Regions from separate parts of the Homo sapiens genome. Here region 2 is linked to region 1. The links come from fine-mapping of genetic effects on gene expression. Tissue or cell type: whole blood. Region 1 holds a variant in brackets; the other region holds the start of a gene. All regions are shown on one strand. Distances are between the middles of the regions.

Region 1 (8,102 bases):
AAAAAGGAATCTCTACCCCAAGACCAAAAATAATAAGTCCTGTTTCTGGTCCTGAACATCCAGAATTATGGAGGCTTACTGTAGCCTCATACCACATTAGGATTTGGTCTGGAAATCAAACTTTAGAAACAAGAGATCATCAGCCGTTTTATACTATCGACCTAAATTCCAGTCTAACGGTTCCTTTACAAAGTTGTGTAAAGCCCCCTTATATGCTAGTTGTAGGAAATATAGTTATTAAACCAGACTCTCAAACTATAACCTGTAAAAAGTAGATAGTTTACTTGCATTGATTCGACTTTTAATCGGCAGCACCGTATTCTGCTGGTGAGAGCAAGAGAGGGCGTGTGGATCCCTGTGTCCATGGACCGACCGTGGGAGGCCTCGCCATCCGTCCATATTTTGACTGAATATTAAAAGCCATTTTAAATAGATCCAAAAGATTCATTTTTACTTTAATTACAGTGCTTATGGGATTAATTGCAGTCACAGCTACGGCTGCTGTGGCAGGAGTTGCGCTGCACTCTTCTGTTCAGTCAGTAAACTTTGTTAATGATTGGCAAAAAAATGCTACAAGATTGTGGAATTCACAATCTGGTATTGATCAAAAATTGGCAAATCAAATTAATGATTTTAGACAAACTGTCATTTGGATGGGAGACAGGCTCATGAGCTTAGAACATCGTTTCCAGTTACAATGTGACTGGAATATGTCAGATTTTTGTATTACACCCCAAGTTGTAATGAGTCTGAGCATCACTGGGACATGGTTAGACGCCATCTACAGGCAAGAGAAGATAATCTCACTTTAGACATTTCCAAATTAAAAGAACAAATTTTCAAAACATCAAAAGCCCATTTAAATTTGGTGCCAGGAACTGAGGCAATCGCAGGAGTTGCTGATGGCCTCACAAATCTTAACCCTGTCACTTGGGTTAAGACGATTGGAAGTACTACGATTATAAATTTCATATTAATCCTTGTGTGCCTGTTTTGTCTGTTGTTCAAGTCTGCAGGTGTACCCAACAGCTCTGAAGAGACAGCGACCATCAAGAACGGGCCATGATGATGATGGCAGTTTTGTCGAAAAGAAAAGGGGGAAATGTGGGGAAAAGAGAGATCAGATTGTTACTGTGTCGTGTAGAAATAAGTAGACATAGGAGACTCCATTTTGCTCTGTACTAAGAAAAATTATTCTGCCTTGAGATGCTGTTAATCTATAACCTTACCCCCAACCCCGTGCTCTCTGAAACATGTGCTGTGTCCACTCAGGGTTAAATGGATTAAGGGCGGTGCAAGATGTGCTTTGTTCAACAGATGCTTGAAGGCAGCATGCTTGTTAAGAATCATCACCACTCCCTAATCTCAAGTACCCAGGGACACAAACACTGCGGAAGGCCGCAGGGTCCTCTGCCTGGGAAAGCCAGGTATTGTCCAAGGTTTCTCCCCATGTGATAGTCTGAAATATGGCCTCGTGGGAAGGGAAAGACCTGACCGTCCCCCAGCCCGACACCTGTAAAGGGTCTGTGCTGAGGAGGATTAGTAAAAGAGGAAGGCATGCCTCTTTGCAGTTGAGACAAGAGGAAGGCATCTGTCTCCTGCCCGTCCCCGGGCAATGGAATGTCCCCTGGGCAATGGAATGTCTCGGTATAAAACCCGATTGTATGTTCCATCTACTGAGATAGGGGAAAACCGCCTTAGGGCTGGAGGTGGGACATGCGGGCAACAATACTGCTCTGTAAGGCATTGAGATGTTTTATGTGTATGCATATCTAAAGCACAGCACTTAATTCTTTACCTTGTCCATGATGCAGAGACCTTTGTTCACGTGTTTATCTGCTGACCTTCTCTCCACTATTATCCTATGACCCTGCCACATCCCCCTCTCCGAGAAACACCCAAGAATGATCAATAAATACTAAGGGAACTCAGAGGCTGGCGGGATCCTCCATATGCTGAACGCTGGTCCCCTGGGCCCCCTTATTTCTTTCTCTATACTTTGTCTCTGTGTCTTTTTCTTTTCCAAGTCTCTCGTTCCACCTAACAAGAAACACCCACAGGTGTGGAGGGACAACCCACCCCTTCAGAAAGTAATAGTTTATTTCATTTATTTATATTTTTTCTCTCCTTTTCACAGGTGTTGAACAGTTTATTTTACTAATGCATGTGGTTTACCCCAACACATCCCAAATATCATGATTCCAACATGTGGTGTTGGCTGCATTTTCAGAGCTTGCAGTCATACGTCTTAGTCTGTTGGGGCTGCTGTGACAAAATACTGTAAATTGGGTCTCTCTAACAACAGCAATATAATGTTCACAGTTCTGGAGGCTGGCAGTCCAAGATCAGCTGGCATACAGGGTGTCTGGTGAGGGCCCACTTTCTGGGTCATGCCTGCCATCTTCCCACTGTGGTCACATGGCGGAAGGGGCGAGGGAGCTCTCTGGGGCCTCTTGTATAAGGGCGCTAATCCCAACCACAAGGGCCCCACCCTCATGACCCCATCACCTCCCAAAGATGCCACCTCCAGATGCCATCACCTTGGGGATGAGGTGTCAACACATGAGTTTGGGGGGACACAGACATTTGTTCATGTGGTAAGTGGCTCCAATGCTGGCCTGCCTCTGAGGCCTGGCCTCCTGGTGGAGGGCCGTGCAGGCACAGGGCTCTCGTGCACTGGGGTCCCCGGGGACACCTCCCACCCCTGCCCAGGCTCTACTTGGGAGTTGGCAGGTGCTGAGTCCTCTTGTGACCTTCTTAAGAAAGTCCCTCCTGGCCAGGTTCAGTGGCTCATGACAGTAATCCCAGCACTTTAGGAGGCCGAGTCGGGTGGATAACTTGAGGCCAGGAGTTCAAGACCAGCTTGGTCAACATGGTGAACCCCTTTCTCTACTGAAAATACAAAACTTAGCAGGGTGTGGTGGCAGGCGCCTGTAATCTCTGTTACTTGGGAGGCTGCAGCTAGAGAATCGCTTCAACCCAGAAGGCAGAGGTTGTAGCGAGCCGAGATCACGCCATTGTACTCCAGCCTGGGCAACAGAGCAAGACTCTGTCTCAAAAAAAAAAAAAGAAAGTCCCTTCTCTCAGAGCTCAGGGCTGATAACAGAGCAAGAAATGCATCCTCGGGGAGAGAGAGCAGCCTGGCCTGGCCTGGCCTGGGAAGGCTGGCTTCAACCATCAAAGACAGCTCTCACACCTCAGGCCCCAGGGCCTGGGGCTTGATCCCTGCATCCCCTCTTCCGCTGGCTGAGCTCTGTGCCTCAAGAGTGAGACTCCACCCTCCCAGCACTCCCTCACAAGCAGACCGGGCCCCATCCTGCCTCTGCTGACCCCCACTCCCCTGGGGCCTGCTCTCTGGGTCAGGACCCGCATGGAAACCAGGGGCAGGCCATCCCAACACCTCCCAGAGGCTGCCGGCAGCTCAGGCTGGTTTTCCTGTGACCAGTGCAAGTGTTCTTTTCAGTTATCTGACTTCCTTCCGGGGCATTCTGAGCCCACCCATAGCTTTTGGCATGCCTTTAAGGGACACAAAGAACCACAACAGCCACTGTGTCCTCATCTGTAAGGCAGGGCCCCAACCCACCCTGCCTTCCTCATAGGGGTGTGTAATGCTGGATGAAAAAGCCTATTAGAAAGTGTCCGTCAAAGGCCGGGCACGGTGGCTCACACCTGTAATCCCAACACTTTGGGAGGCTGAGGCAGGTGGATCACCTGAGGTCGGGAGTTTGAGACCAGCCTGGTCAACATGGTGAAACCCCATCTCTACTAAAAAATACAAAAAATTAGGCAGGTATGATGGTGCATGCCTGTAGTATCAGCTACTTGGGAGGCTGGGGCAGGAGAATTGCTTGAACCCAGGAGGCAGAGGTTGCAGTGAGCCAAGATCGTGCCACTGAACTCCAGCCCGGGTGACAGAGTGAGACTCCATCTCGAAGGAAAAAAAAAAAGAAGTGTCTGTCAAAGGCCCCGTGCGGCCTTTAATCCCAGCACTCTGGGAGGCCGAAGTAGGTGGGTGAATCCCTTAAACCCAGGAGTTTGATTTTTTAAAAATTATTTTGTTATTTTTATTTTCTTATCTTGAGCCCAGGAGTTTGAGACCAGCCTGGGCAACATCGTGAGACCCCATATCTTTAAAAAAAAAAAAAAAAAAAAAAAAAGCTAGGTATGGTGGTGCACACCTGTAGTCCCAGCTATTCAGGAGACTGAAGTGGGAGGATCGTTTGAGCCTGGGAGGTTGAGGCTGCAGTGAGCTGTGATTGTGCCACTGCACTCCAGCCTGGATGACAGAGCAAGCAAAAAAACACATTAGTGGCCGGGCACAGTGGCTCACGTCTGTAATCCTAGCACTTTGGGAGGCCAAGGCGGGCGGATTGCCTGAGCTCAGGAGTTCGAGACCAGCCTGGGCGACATGGTGAAACCCCGTCACTAAAATACAAAAAATTAGCCGGGTGTGGTGGCGGGCACCGCACCTGTAATTCCAGCTACTCAGGAGGCAAAGGCAGGGGAATCGCTTGAACCCGGGAGGTGGAAGTTGCAGTGAGTCGAGATCGGGCCACTGCACTCTAGCCTGGGTGACAGAGCGAGACTCTGTCTCCAAAAAACAAAAACCAAAACACATTAGGAAAATGTTCACACCAAACTCAAAGTGGAGACTGGGGAGGGAGTGAAAACTGGAAGCACGCAGTAAAGGGGAATTTACTTTTATCCCTTTCATTTCTTAAACAAGAAAAACAGGAAACCTATACATATATATATTGTTTCACAATGACTAATTCTGATGGTAGGAATGTGGGCAGTCATTATATTATTCTTTTTTTTCTGTGTTCTTCTACTTTCTTTTTCTTTTTTCTTTTTTTTTTTTTTTTGAGACGGAGTCTCGCTCGTCGCCCAGGCTGGAGTGCAGTGGCACGATCTCGGCTCACTGCAAACTCCGCCTCCCGGGTTCACGCCATTCTCCTGCCTCAGCCTCCCGAGTAGCTGGGACTACAGGCGCC[C/T]GCCACCACGCCCGGCTAATTTTTTTGTATTTTTGGTGGAGACGTGGTTTCACCGTGTTAGCCAGGATGGTCTCGATCTCCTGACTTCGAGGGGCCACAGGACTAGTAGAGCCAAGAGTTGAGGGTCCGGGTGGGGTGATCCGGCCGTCAGAAATGCAAAAGCCTGGAAAGACATCTCCAAAGGCCAATCTCAGGTTGGACAATCGTGAGCTGGGGAAGCTGCAAACACTGTGACCTCCGGAATAACCGCTGGTAATCAGTTACCTCTAACCCTTAGCAGAATTCAGGTCCCTCTACTACTCCTAACCTGGTGGCCTTTCATTAACTCTATGAAGCCAGTTTAGTTCGGGGGAAGGGCAATTATCATTTAGACTACGAACTAATTTCTCCCAAAGTTAGCTTGGCCCAAGCCCAGGAATGACCAAGGACCGTTTAGAGGTTAAAGGCAAGCTGCGGGTTGGTTAGATCAGATCTCTTTCGCTGTCATAATTTTGTAATATAATTTTTGCAAAGGCGGCTTCAGGTTTTTTGCTAAGACAGGTTTTTTGATCAGATCAAATTCTTCTGCTACAGCGCTCTCCCTAAAAGCATAGGAAGGCATTTCTGCATTTCCTTCCTGGGCGGAGGAAAAGCCCCGCCTCCTCAGGCTCTGAGTCCCGCCCGGTCACCATTCCGATTGACACTCCAGCTGACCAATCAGCGCGCTGGCTGGAGCGCGGGTCTGCCCCTCTGGACGCACATGCGCGCTGTCCTGGCTCGGGAGATGGACGGCCGCCGTGTTTTGGGCCGGTTCTGGAGTGGCTGGCGGCGGGGCCTGGGTGTCCGCCCAGTGCCCGAGGACGCAGGCTTTGGCACCGAAGCCCGGTGATTAAGTACCCCCTCTCTCATGCGGGACGGAGGCTAGGGCAGGGGGAAGGCACGTGCGGGATCTGGATCAGGTAGATGTTACCCGAAAACAGCCCCGTTGGCCTCTCTGAGCCTCGGTGCCCTCCGCTGTAGAATGGGACCGGTCGTACCTGAATTTTCGAGGTCAGCCCAGACATTGTGAGGCATTTGTCAGAGGCCGCAGGATTTGGGAAGAGGCGTCCGGAGATAGGAATGGGTGGCACCTCGGGATGGAATGACTCCCATTGCTTCTCCCTCCTTGTCCAGGCATCAGAGGCAACCCCGCGGCTCCTGCCAACGGTCGGGGCCCCTCGGGGACCAGCCCTTCGCGGGGCTGCTGCCAAAAAACCTCAGTCGGGAGGAGCTGGTTGATGCGCTGCGGGCAGCCGTGGTGGACCGGAAAGGTGAGGGGTGAGAGGCACGGCCGCACAAGGACCGGGAGGGGACTGCCTCGGCGTGCAGTTGGGCTCTCCATTGAAGCCACGGGATCAGCCCTGCTTCTGCCTCCCACTAGCAGCATGAGCTGGGACAAGCCACCTAATTTGCACCCTCTCCCCGCTTTTAACCCTACTGCCATGATGCAGTAGGGTTAAGAGTGGGGAGAAGATGCAAATAACTACCGAGCCTTGCACATAGCCGGCGCTCAGTTACGGGAGTTGCTATACTAGATTATTGTTTATTGGCCGCGGTGGCTCACGCCTGTAATCCCGGCACTTTAGGGTGCTGACGCGGGCGGATCACCTGAGGTCAGGAGTTCGAGACTAGCCTGGCCAACATGGTGAAACCCCGTCTCTACTAAAAACACAAAAATTAGCCAGGTGTGGCGGCGTCCGCCTGTAATCCCAGCTACTCGGGAGGCTGAGGCAGGAGAGTCACTTGAACCCGGATAGCAGAGGTTGCAGTGAGCCGACATCGTGCTACTGCGCTCCAGCCTGGGATGACAGAGCAAGACTCAGTCTAAATAAATAAATAAATAAATAATGATTATTTATCGACGGACAAAACACAGGCTTTGGAGTCAGACATACCTAGGCTCTGTGATCAGCTTGCTGTGCGGCTTTAGGAAAATAACTGAATTTCTCTGAACCCCACTCTCTATTCAGTGATTTATTCCTTTTCTCAACTATTTCTTGAACATATGCTATGTTCCAGGCACTGTTCTAGGCAGGCTATACAGTGCTGAAAAAGATAGATATGGTTTCTGCTCTCAGGGGAGAAATGGATTTCTCTCTAACGGGAGAAATGGATGTCAGAAAATAAATGAACAAGTTACTAGTGGTAAGTGCTATGCATAAACTAAAACAGGGTGTTATGATGGTGAGGAACTGCAGGAGGAAGGCAGACATTAGATTGGAGATTCAGACCTCTCCGTGATGTGACATTTGAGCCAAGATGATAGGGAGCCAGACCTGGGAAATTTGGGGACAGGAAACAGCAAGTGCCGAGGCTCTGAGGTGGCAGAGGAACAGAAAGAAGTTGAATTTGGTGTGGGGTAGTTAACTCATGTCTGAGAGTCATGATGGGGACATGTGCTAAGATGCGTGAGAAAGTGCTCTGGAAACTCTTTAGTGCTGCATAAAGGGTTACCGTTGCTTTTGCTGATGTTCGTGTGATGTATGTTTCAGGACCTCTAGTGACGTTGAACAAGCCACAGGGTCTACCAGTGACAGGTATGGGCCGGGGATGTGGGAAGGGAATGCAGCGGAAGGGGGTTTCGTGACTGAGGGAGGGAAAAGTGAAGGCATGAAGCTTTGGCCTCTTGTAATTTTTCTTTCTTACTTTCCAGGAAAACCAGGAGAGCTGACGTTGTTCTCAGTGCTGCCAGAGCTGAGCCAGTCCCTAGGGCTCAGGGAGCAGGAGCTTCAGGTTGTCCGAGCATCTGGGAAGTAAGTGGTAGGGGTGACAGGAAGCTAGGAGTACAGGCATCCATCTGTGGTGGGGAAACAGCTGCTTGGGGATAAGCTGAGACATTTTCCATGGGAAGGTTTGAGATCATAGAGGTGGATACAAGTACTGTGAAGAAGAGGAAGCCGATGGCTCTGGGTTCAAATCCTCAAGTACAAATGGTGTGATACCAGGCAAAGCATGACACCTCCCTGACGCTGGGCACAGTGACTCACACCTGTAATCCCAACACTTCTGGAGGCCAAGGCAAGAGGATCACTTGAGCCCAGGAGTTCGAGACCAGCCTGGGCAAAATAGACCCCATCTCTGGAAAAACAA
Region 2 (8,102 bases), 96 kb after region 1:
TCTCACTATGTTGCCCAGGCTGGTCTCAAACTCCTGGGCTCAAGCCATCCTCCCACCTTGGGCTCCCAAAAGTGCTGAAATTACCAGCATGAGCTACCCCACCTGGCTAACGCCGTGCTCTTAACCCATTACACTACACTGCCTCATGATTGCTTTATTCACTCCCAAAGCCCTTCTAGATAGAAACTGTTATTCCCATTCTACAAACAAGCTAAGAGAAGCCGGAAGAGGTGAATGACTTTCTTGAGGCCTTATGACTAACTAAGCCAGGAGCTGAGACTCAAGAACAGGTTTCTTTTTTTTTTTGTTGAGACAGAGTCTCACTCTGTCGCCCAGGCTGGAGTGCAGTGGCACGATCTCGGCTCACTGCAAGCTTCGCCTCCCGGGTTCACGCCATTCTCCTGCCTCAGCCTCCCAAGTAGCTGGGACTACAGGCGCCCACCACCACACCCGGCTAATTTTTTTTGTATTTTTAGTAGAGACGGGGTTTCACCGTATTAGGCAGGATGGTCTTGATCTCCTGACCTCGTGATCCACCCGCCTCGGCCTCCCAAAATGCTGGGATTACGGGTGTGAGCCACCACGCCCGGCCAGGTTTTTTTTTTTTTTTTGAGACGGAGTCTCGCCCTGTCGCCCTGTCGCCCAGGCTGGAGTGCAATGGCATGATCTCAGCTCACTGCAACCTCTGCTTCCCAGGTTCAAATGATTCTCCCGCCTCAGCCTCCTGAGTAGCTGGGATTACAGGTACCTGCCACCACGCCCAGCTAATTTTTAGCAGAGAGCGGGTTTCACCAGGTTGGCCAGTCTGGTCTCAAACTCCCGACCTCAGGTGATCCACCTGCCTCAGCCTCCCAAAGTGTTGGGATTACAGGTGTGAGCCACCGTGCCTGACCCAGGTTTCTTTTTGTTTGTTTTGAGATGGAGTCTCGCTCTGTAACCCAGGCTGGAGTGCTGTGGTCTGATCTTGGTTCACTGGAGCCTCCTGCTCCCGGGTTCAAGCAATTCTCCTGCCTCACCCTCCGGAGTAGCTGGGACAGGTGCCTGCCATCACGCCTGACTAATTTTCGTATTTTTAGTAGAGATGGGGTTTCACCATGTTGGCCAGGCTGGTCTTGAACTCCTGACCTCAGATGATCTGCCTGCCTCGACCTCCCAAAGTGTTGGGATTACAGGCGTGAGCCACCACGCCCGGCCAGGAATGGGTTTCTAAGCACCAAAAACATTCTCCTGTTTTGAGGCAGTCTGTCTCTTTGCTATGCAGTTCCCAAGCACTTGTCCTAGCTTGGTTCTCACATCTGCCAATCGATACACTTGCCTCTGTAAAACATTTGCCTTACAGGGCTACTGTGAAGAACACACGTGTTCTTAGATACAAAACTATCCCATTCACTACAATGATACCAGCTTGAATTTTTTTTTTTTTTTTTTTTTTTGAGACAGAGTCTCGCTCTGTTGCCCAGGCTGGAGACGGGGTTTCACTGTGTTAGCCAGGTGTGAGCCACTGCGCCTGGCTGATACCAGCTTGAATTTTACATATACTTCCTGTGTGCCAAACACTGTGCTAGGTGCAGTATGTATATTCCTTTCTTCAACCCTCATGACAACTCCAATAATAGCATAGGTAGGTGCTATTATTATTCTACTTCACAGATGAAGAAACTTTAGTACAGAGATGCTAAATAATGTGCCCAAGTGAGAGTTGGGGTTCAGAACCAGGCATGGGTCTGTCCCCAGAATGCATGCTCTTAACCCCAAACTACTGTACATTGTATACAGATATTTTTCTGATTAGGCATTGAACCCATTGGGCAAAAAGCACAGACCAGTGAGGTGCTGACATTTTAGGGATGCATAGGGAGGATGAGTAACTGGAGTTGATCAGACCAGGCAGGGCGGTTCTGGATAGGGGAAGTGTTTGGGAAGGCAGGAAGCCTTGAGAAGGTAACCAGGGGAGAAATGAACAGATCTTGAAAGCTGATGGAAGGCCTGGGGGCAGGGGACCCACCTACTCACCAGCCAGGGCCTGCAGGCTGGGGAAGCCATGGTAGGTGACATCATCAAGCTGGATGAGCCGAGGTCCAAAAGCCTGGCACAGCCGCTCCACCATGCCAGTGATGCGGGCGATGTTGTTGTTGGAGGAACAGATAAAAGAGAAAAGGCATTCGATGGGGTCTTGTCGCAGCAGTCGCACACCTGGAGACCAGAAATGCAGGGGGTAGGAGAGGTACCTGCTGTTGGGTGTGGCCTCTTCCCACCCACAGGTCAGATCCTAGGTACCAAAACTCCAGGAGGATCCCAGGAGAATGAGAGTCAGCACCGTTAGAGAAAGCAACACCAGACCTCTCATTCCTCATAGCATCTTGTGAGGGCTGAGTTACCATCCCATTCCACAGATAAAGAGGCCACAATGTAAGCTCCATGAGGACTGGCATTTGGGTCTGTTTTGTTCACTGGTGTATCCCCGGTCACACAGCAGATGCTTTGTATATATTTACAGAATGAATGAAATCACTTGCCCTAGGTCACACAACCAGGAATGGGCTCAAAATCCTTGTCACTTCACTATGGTGATTAGCAGGATAATAATAATGGTAATAATACTTACTATGTGCCTGGCATTATTCTAAGCACTTTACATGTATTAGTTCCTTAAATCCTCATAAAAGCCTATGAAGTAGATATAATCCCCATTTTACAGGTGGCAAAACTGAGTCATAGAGAAGTGACTTATGTCCAAGAACCCTAACCCCAGCCCAGGTCCTGTACTCACCTTGGAATTTCTGAGCCACCTCTTGGAAGTGGGAGTCCACGGAACCCCAGTGGTGATACAGTTGAGCCAGGGTAACATCTAGCTGGAAGTACTTGCGCACGGCCTCCAGCTCGTCTGGTGTGGGCCTGCTAGCCTGGCTCTTGTCTCCTCGGTACACAGTGCAGTGGAGCTGCTCCTCAGTCTGAGTCAGTGTCCATACTTGATCCGCTAGTACACCACTCCAGTGTGCAGGACTTTGCTCCCTCCACCTGAGCCCAAGGCACATGACAACCCTGGCACTCAATTTCCTTTCTTGCACCCTTTGGGGTCCCTCCTATCCTACAATAGCTCCATGTACGAAACTAATACAAGTAACAGTGCTATCTTCCAGTCTGAGCAACATGGCGAAACCTCACCTCTACAAAAAATACAAAAATTTAACCGGGCATGGCGCACACCTGTAGTCCCAGCTACTCGGGAGGCTGCGCCCGGGGGGTCGAGGCTGGAATGGGCCTCTCTGCATTCCTACCTGGGCAACAGAGCGAGACCCTGTCTCAAAAAAAGAAAAACAAGTGCTATTATCTTCTGCATCGGTTATACCGCTGGATCCTTACAATTATCACTGTACAGACATATTAAAGGTAACAGGTTGGCTACCCGTGCTTGTTTCCTCTTTTGTACCCCGGGTTTCTTCCATCATCCCCCAAATTCCTTTGTACCCCATGCCAGGCAGTGTTGAGGCGGCAGGAGCCAGTCCGAGGGGACAGGCTTCTCAGGCTCAGTCACTCACCGGAAAGATTGTCCAGAAGGCAGAACCAGGTCCAGGCGCAGCTCAGAGCGAGGGCACGGGATGGAGGCCCACAGGGCAGGAGTGGAGGCTAGAGTACGATGCCCCATGCGCCTGGGCAGAAGCGCGCGGGCAGGCATTTCCACAGCAGGCACCGCCCCGTAGTAGCCCCGCCTACCCAGAACCAGGCCTCGTCGACGCCCAAAGACCCCGCCCAGACAAGGACCACGACCCTTAAGGCCTCGCCCACACGGTGCTGTTTAACAACCTTCCCTGTTTCACTTAATTCCTCCACCTCCTGCATGCCTCGCCCTTTGCGGGTCATCAAAGCCCCGCTTCGTGCCCCAATTCTCCGGCTTTCCTGAGGTGTAGGTCCCGCCCCCTCCTTGCGACTTATCTTCTCCCGCCCCCAGAGCCTGTGGGCGCGCACAGCTGTGTTCTTCTGGGTTCTCCAGGGGCAGACCACAGCACCACCGGAAGTAGGGCTCAACCACCGCTCATTTCACCTAGAGGTAGCCAATCCGAGGAGGAGGTAGGAGGCGCCAATGAGAAATCAGGGTGGGCGGGCCGTTCTGAGGCGCTCGCGCGGTTGGCCGGCACTGGGCTCTCTGCCAGCTGCTCGCCTTTCCCCCTCCGGGATTGTCTGCACTCGGGGCGCTAACGAGTTCCATCTGGGCGCCCCGCGGTTCCTCAGGGCTGTCCGTCTTCAGAGCCACGTCCTTCCCCAGCCCGTTCTCCGAGAGCCGTTCTCCCCCGAGCCTTTGCAGTCTTAGGCGTTCGCCCTCCTTGGGCCGCCTCCCACGAACCCTGTCTTCACCAAGAACCGGAGCGAACACAGCTCCGGCCCCAGAGCCCTCGGGAAGTGTCTCCAGAGTATTATTCTCTTCTGCGCCCGCCCGCTAAGCTTGTCCCATTCAAGGCCTTTAGGCGTCCTCTGAGACCTCAGGACATCAGAGGCCTCTCCTCGGATTGTCGTCCCGCCGGCCGCCACAGCTGCTGCCTGCCGTCTTGGGCATTTCTTCCATACTCCATCTGCTCATGCTTTCCTCGGAATGGGACGTTTGCCGGGGGTTTGTCTGGGGCTGGGCCCAGAAGCCCATCAGGTTGAGTCCAAGTCCCAGTGTGTGGCCCTGAGGCAGCCTGCCTTCTAGTCGCCTGGAGTAGGAGGATGGATTATTTAATTTCTTCCCTTCTGGAGGATGGCATGAAAAAGCAGGGAGCTAGGAGACATGACCTTTATCTGGGCCATTCTCACCTTTTAGCATAGGGATTTGGGGTTGCTGTATCTTAACTATCAGGCTGCAAGTTTTTTTTCTTTGAGACGGAGTCTCACTCTGTCGCCTAGGCTGGAGTGTGATGGCGCGATCTCGGCTCACTGCAAGCTCCGCCTCCCGGGTTCAAGCGATTCTCCTGCCTCAGCCTCCCGAGTAGCTGGGACTACAGGTGCGCGCCACCACGCCCAGCTAATTTTTGTATTTTTAGTAGAGATGGGGTTTCACCATGTTGGCTAGCATGGTCTCGATCTCTTGACCTCGTGATCCAGCCGCCTCGGCCTCTTAAAGTGTTGGGATTACAGGCGTGAGCCACCGCACCCCGCCCAGACTGCAAATTCTTGAAGAGCAACATCTGCAGCGGATTGACCCTTGTGTCCCAGCCAGAGACCTAGCGGAGTGTACCGTCAGCATGGAATCAACATCAGACCAGTGCCATCATTGTCTCAGTGCCAGTCCTCAGTGGCTGCAAGGCCTGGGCCGCCCCTTCTTCCTGTGACTGTTCCTATCTGTAGGCATGCCATCCCACAGGCGCCTAGCACTTGGAAGGCATTCCTTCAATAAATGTCGGTGGAGTCTGGAAAGAAGGTGCTGAGGTTGGGGGTGAGCAAAGAGCAACCGTCTCCATCCCAGCTCTGTCTCCGGTTAAGCAGTGGGGAAGGTCTCAGCTGTATTGATGCTGAAACACTTGGGCCATGCCACTGGCAAAGGACTTGAGGCCTCTAAGGGCCAAGTAGGAATCGATAGTTGACTCTTCCCCTGGCAGTTCAGCATACTGGTTGAAGAGCCAGGTTTGCAAACAGACCTGGGTTCCAATTCTAGCTCTGCACCTTCCTAGTTGTAGGAACTTAGGCAAGATAATTTTTTGAAACTTCAGCATCTTTGTGGAGATAACCAGTCTATTATTAAACTACCCTATAGTTATTGCAAGGATTACGCAAAGCTGAATGTCTAAAGGTGCTCAACACAGGGCCTGCCACTCACTCCATGCATGGGCAACAGGGGCTCTCTTTGCTGTGTCTTATGAAATGTAGCATGCACAGCAGTCAGCAACCACTTGGGCCCAATTATGTATCATCCCTGGGGCACAGAACCTCCCTTTGTATCCCCTTTGCCCTGGCAGGGGGCAAGAACAAAGAATTCTAAATTGACAGTTTATTTTCTAAGAATCAATATATTTTCTTCCTTTGAAATAAATACAAACCAGTTTGAAAGGTGGGGGAATCTATGGGAAAGAGAAGGGAAATGGGGACAGCCCCCAGTCTTTTTTTTTTTTTTTTTTAGTACCAAATGACTCTGGCGCGACCCGGAAACGCAGTTACAAATGAGAATAATTTAAATTCTCCGATAATTACAGTATTTACAACAGCAGGGGAGGGAGTCACCTAGTGCCCCTCTTCCAGGCTGGACAGATGCCCACTCACCTCACGACCGGTAGGGGCCCCAGGCCTCTAGGCAGTTATGGATTCTCCTGGCATGAGCAGGTAGAGGTGGTGGGATGGCCTGTTTTACGCAGTGTCCTAACTTTGGCCCACCACCCCGCCCTACAATGCTGTGAGGTCTCTGGAGCTTTTTCTGACCTGTGGGCCCTCCCTCTCCTTGCGCTGAACTGCCATTGGCCCTTGGAGTGTTCTGTACAGTCCAGCTGCACTTAGGGCAGGAGGGACCTCCCCCACCCAGCTTCCCCTGAGACTGGCCCCAAGACCAGAAATGAGTCAGTGCAGAGGCCGGTGCCACTCCAGGACAGTGAGCAAAGGGGAGGAGAGAAGTCACAGGGCACTATAGGTTGGGCTGTGTTGAGCAGTATCAATCACTATCGCTGGTCTCACTGCTCTGCTCGCCTTGCACCTTGCTGCGGTGCTGCAGAGCCCTGTGGTAGGCGATCTGTACTGACTTGCGGATGTTGGACTTGCGGCCCTCCAGCATCTTCTCCTTGTCTAGGTCCTGGTTCACACCCAGAGGAACCAGCTTGGTCCTGGGCAGCCACTGCCTATAGGATAAGGTGAAGATCAAATAAATCATCTCAGGGAGAACAAGGACCAGCCTTCCTCCTCTATTCACTCAAACACACCACCCAAGCACCCACTCTGGCCAGACTCTGTGATGGTCCCTGCCCTCAAAGGACTGTTCATGGTCTAGAGATGAAAGAGCCCAGTCAACAGTTATACTGTGTGGTGGCGGCGGGAGGGTAATCACAGGGTATTTATGGGTACAAAAAGGAGGCACCCTGACCTCACCAGAAATAGCTACCCTGTGCCATAGGCTCTAGGCAGACTTTACTGACATTGAATATCCTCTGCAGACAATTAACAAAAAGACTACATGTGTAAATGTGACAGAACAGGGATTCAGAGCCTGAATGTTTATGCCTGCTTTATCCTCATTTTGTCACTGTGGAGGCAGAGGTGGGAAAACTAAGTCTAGAAGCCATCTGAGTCTGGGTGGGAGCCACCTCTATATTTGTCATAAGTCTCTGATGGTCCTTTGGTTTCTAGCTATAGCTGTGTCCACTAGTGCCCACTCAGCCTCTCAGACACATGGTCGACACAACCCTTTCGCTCAAAAAACTGTTCTAAGTCCCTCCCCCACTGACTTGTGATAGCCCAGTCTGCCTGTTGCTGGAGTTTCCTGGCAGTCTGCCCCCATACCACACAGGGCTGCATCTGTGGCTGTGAGTCACACCAAATGCTCCCCTCCTTACCAGGTTCGTTTGTTGTCAAAGAAGAGGACGAGGTAGAGATGCTCTCGGGCTTCCTGGGTCATCTGCTCCCCAAGTTTCAGCACCTCCAGTGGGGGCACAGGGATGGGAACCCCATGGTGGAACATACCTTCTCGGGGCATCTTTGGATCAATGATCTGAGGATATAATAAGAGCCCAGTTTGGTTCAGTCCATGTCCTCCCAAGGCTTTTCCTCCTCAAGAACTTAGAGAGTATGTCTGAAGTGGGGACAGAGAGGGTATCATGCTACTAGAACTGCAATGCTGACCCTCAGCTTCTTTCCATGCTAAATTATTTCAGAGCCCAAGGAGCAAAGAGAAGCAAAAGGGAGAGATGGAGAAACTGAGTGGGAGCCTCTAAGTGGTACTCAAGCTGTATCTGCCCACCAGTCTACCTTACCAAGAAACTCTGTGCCCCACAGCTCAGCAGGGAGTAGGAAAAGTCTGCTAACTGTGAATCTGTATTCTGGGATTGGAAAGCAAGAAGTGTAACAGAAGCAAGCATACCAGAGCTGGGTATGATGGATAGCCTCGGCATTTGGCCCACACGAGGTCCAGAGCATCCAGCGGGGAGTCC

The links. PIP is the estimated chance that this variant, and not a neighbour inherited with it, causes the effect.
Region 2: it holds the start of OGG1, and the variant in region 1 is fine-mapped to the expression of OGG1 in whole blood (TOPMed, PIP above 0.99). The same link has a PIP of 0.9 or more in sun-exposed skin.

What each region holds. Positions count from the first base shown.
Region 1 is chr3:9,841,646-9,849,747 of GRCh38, reverse strand. RPUSD3 (RNA pseudouridine synthase D3) reads left to right here and starts at 5,740. Exons shown (of 9, transcript NM_173659.5): 1 at 5,740-5,858; 2 at 6,147-6,283; 3 at 7,505-7,549; 4 at 7,666-7,765. The coding sequence starts at 5,758. RefSeq lists enhancers at 393-1,253, 5,798-5,877. The variant C/T (reference allele first, on the strand shown) is at 4,995.
Region 2 is chr3:9,745,861-9,753,962 of GRCh38, reverse strand. It overlaps OGG1 (8-oxoguanine DNA glycosylase), which reads right to left and starts at 4,011. Exons shown (of 7, transcript NM_002542.6): 1 at 3,540-4,011; 2 at 2,771-3,018; 3 at 2,014-2,193. The coding sequence starts at 3,676. It overlaps BRPF1 (bromodomain and PHD finger containing 1), which reads right to left. Exons shown (of 14, transcript NM_001003694.2): 12 at 8,033-8,102; 13 at 7,509-7,663; 14 at 5,948-6,797. The coding sequence ends at 6,614. RefSeq lists enhancers at 4,238-4,357, 4,388-4,437.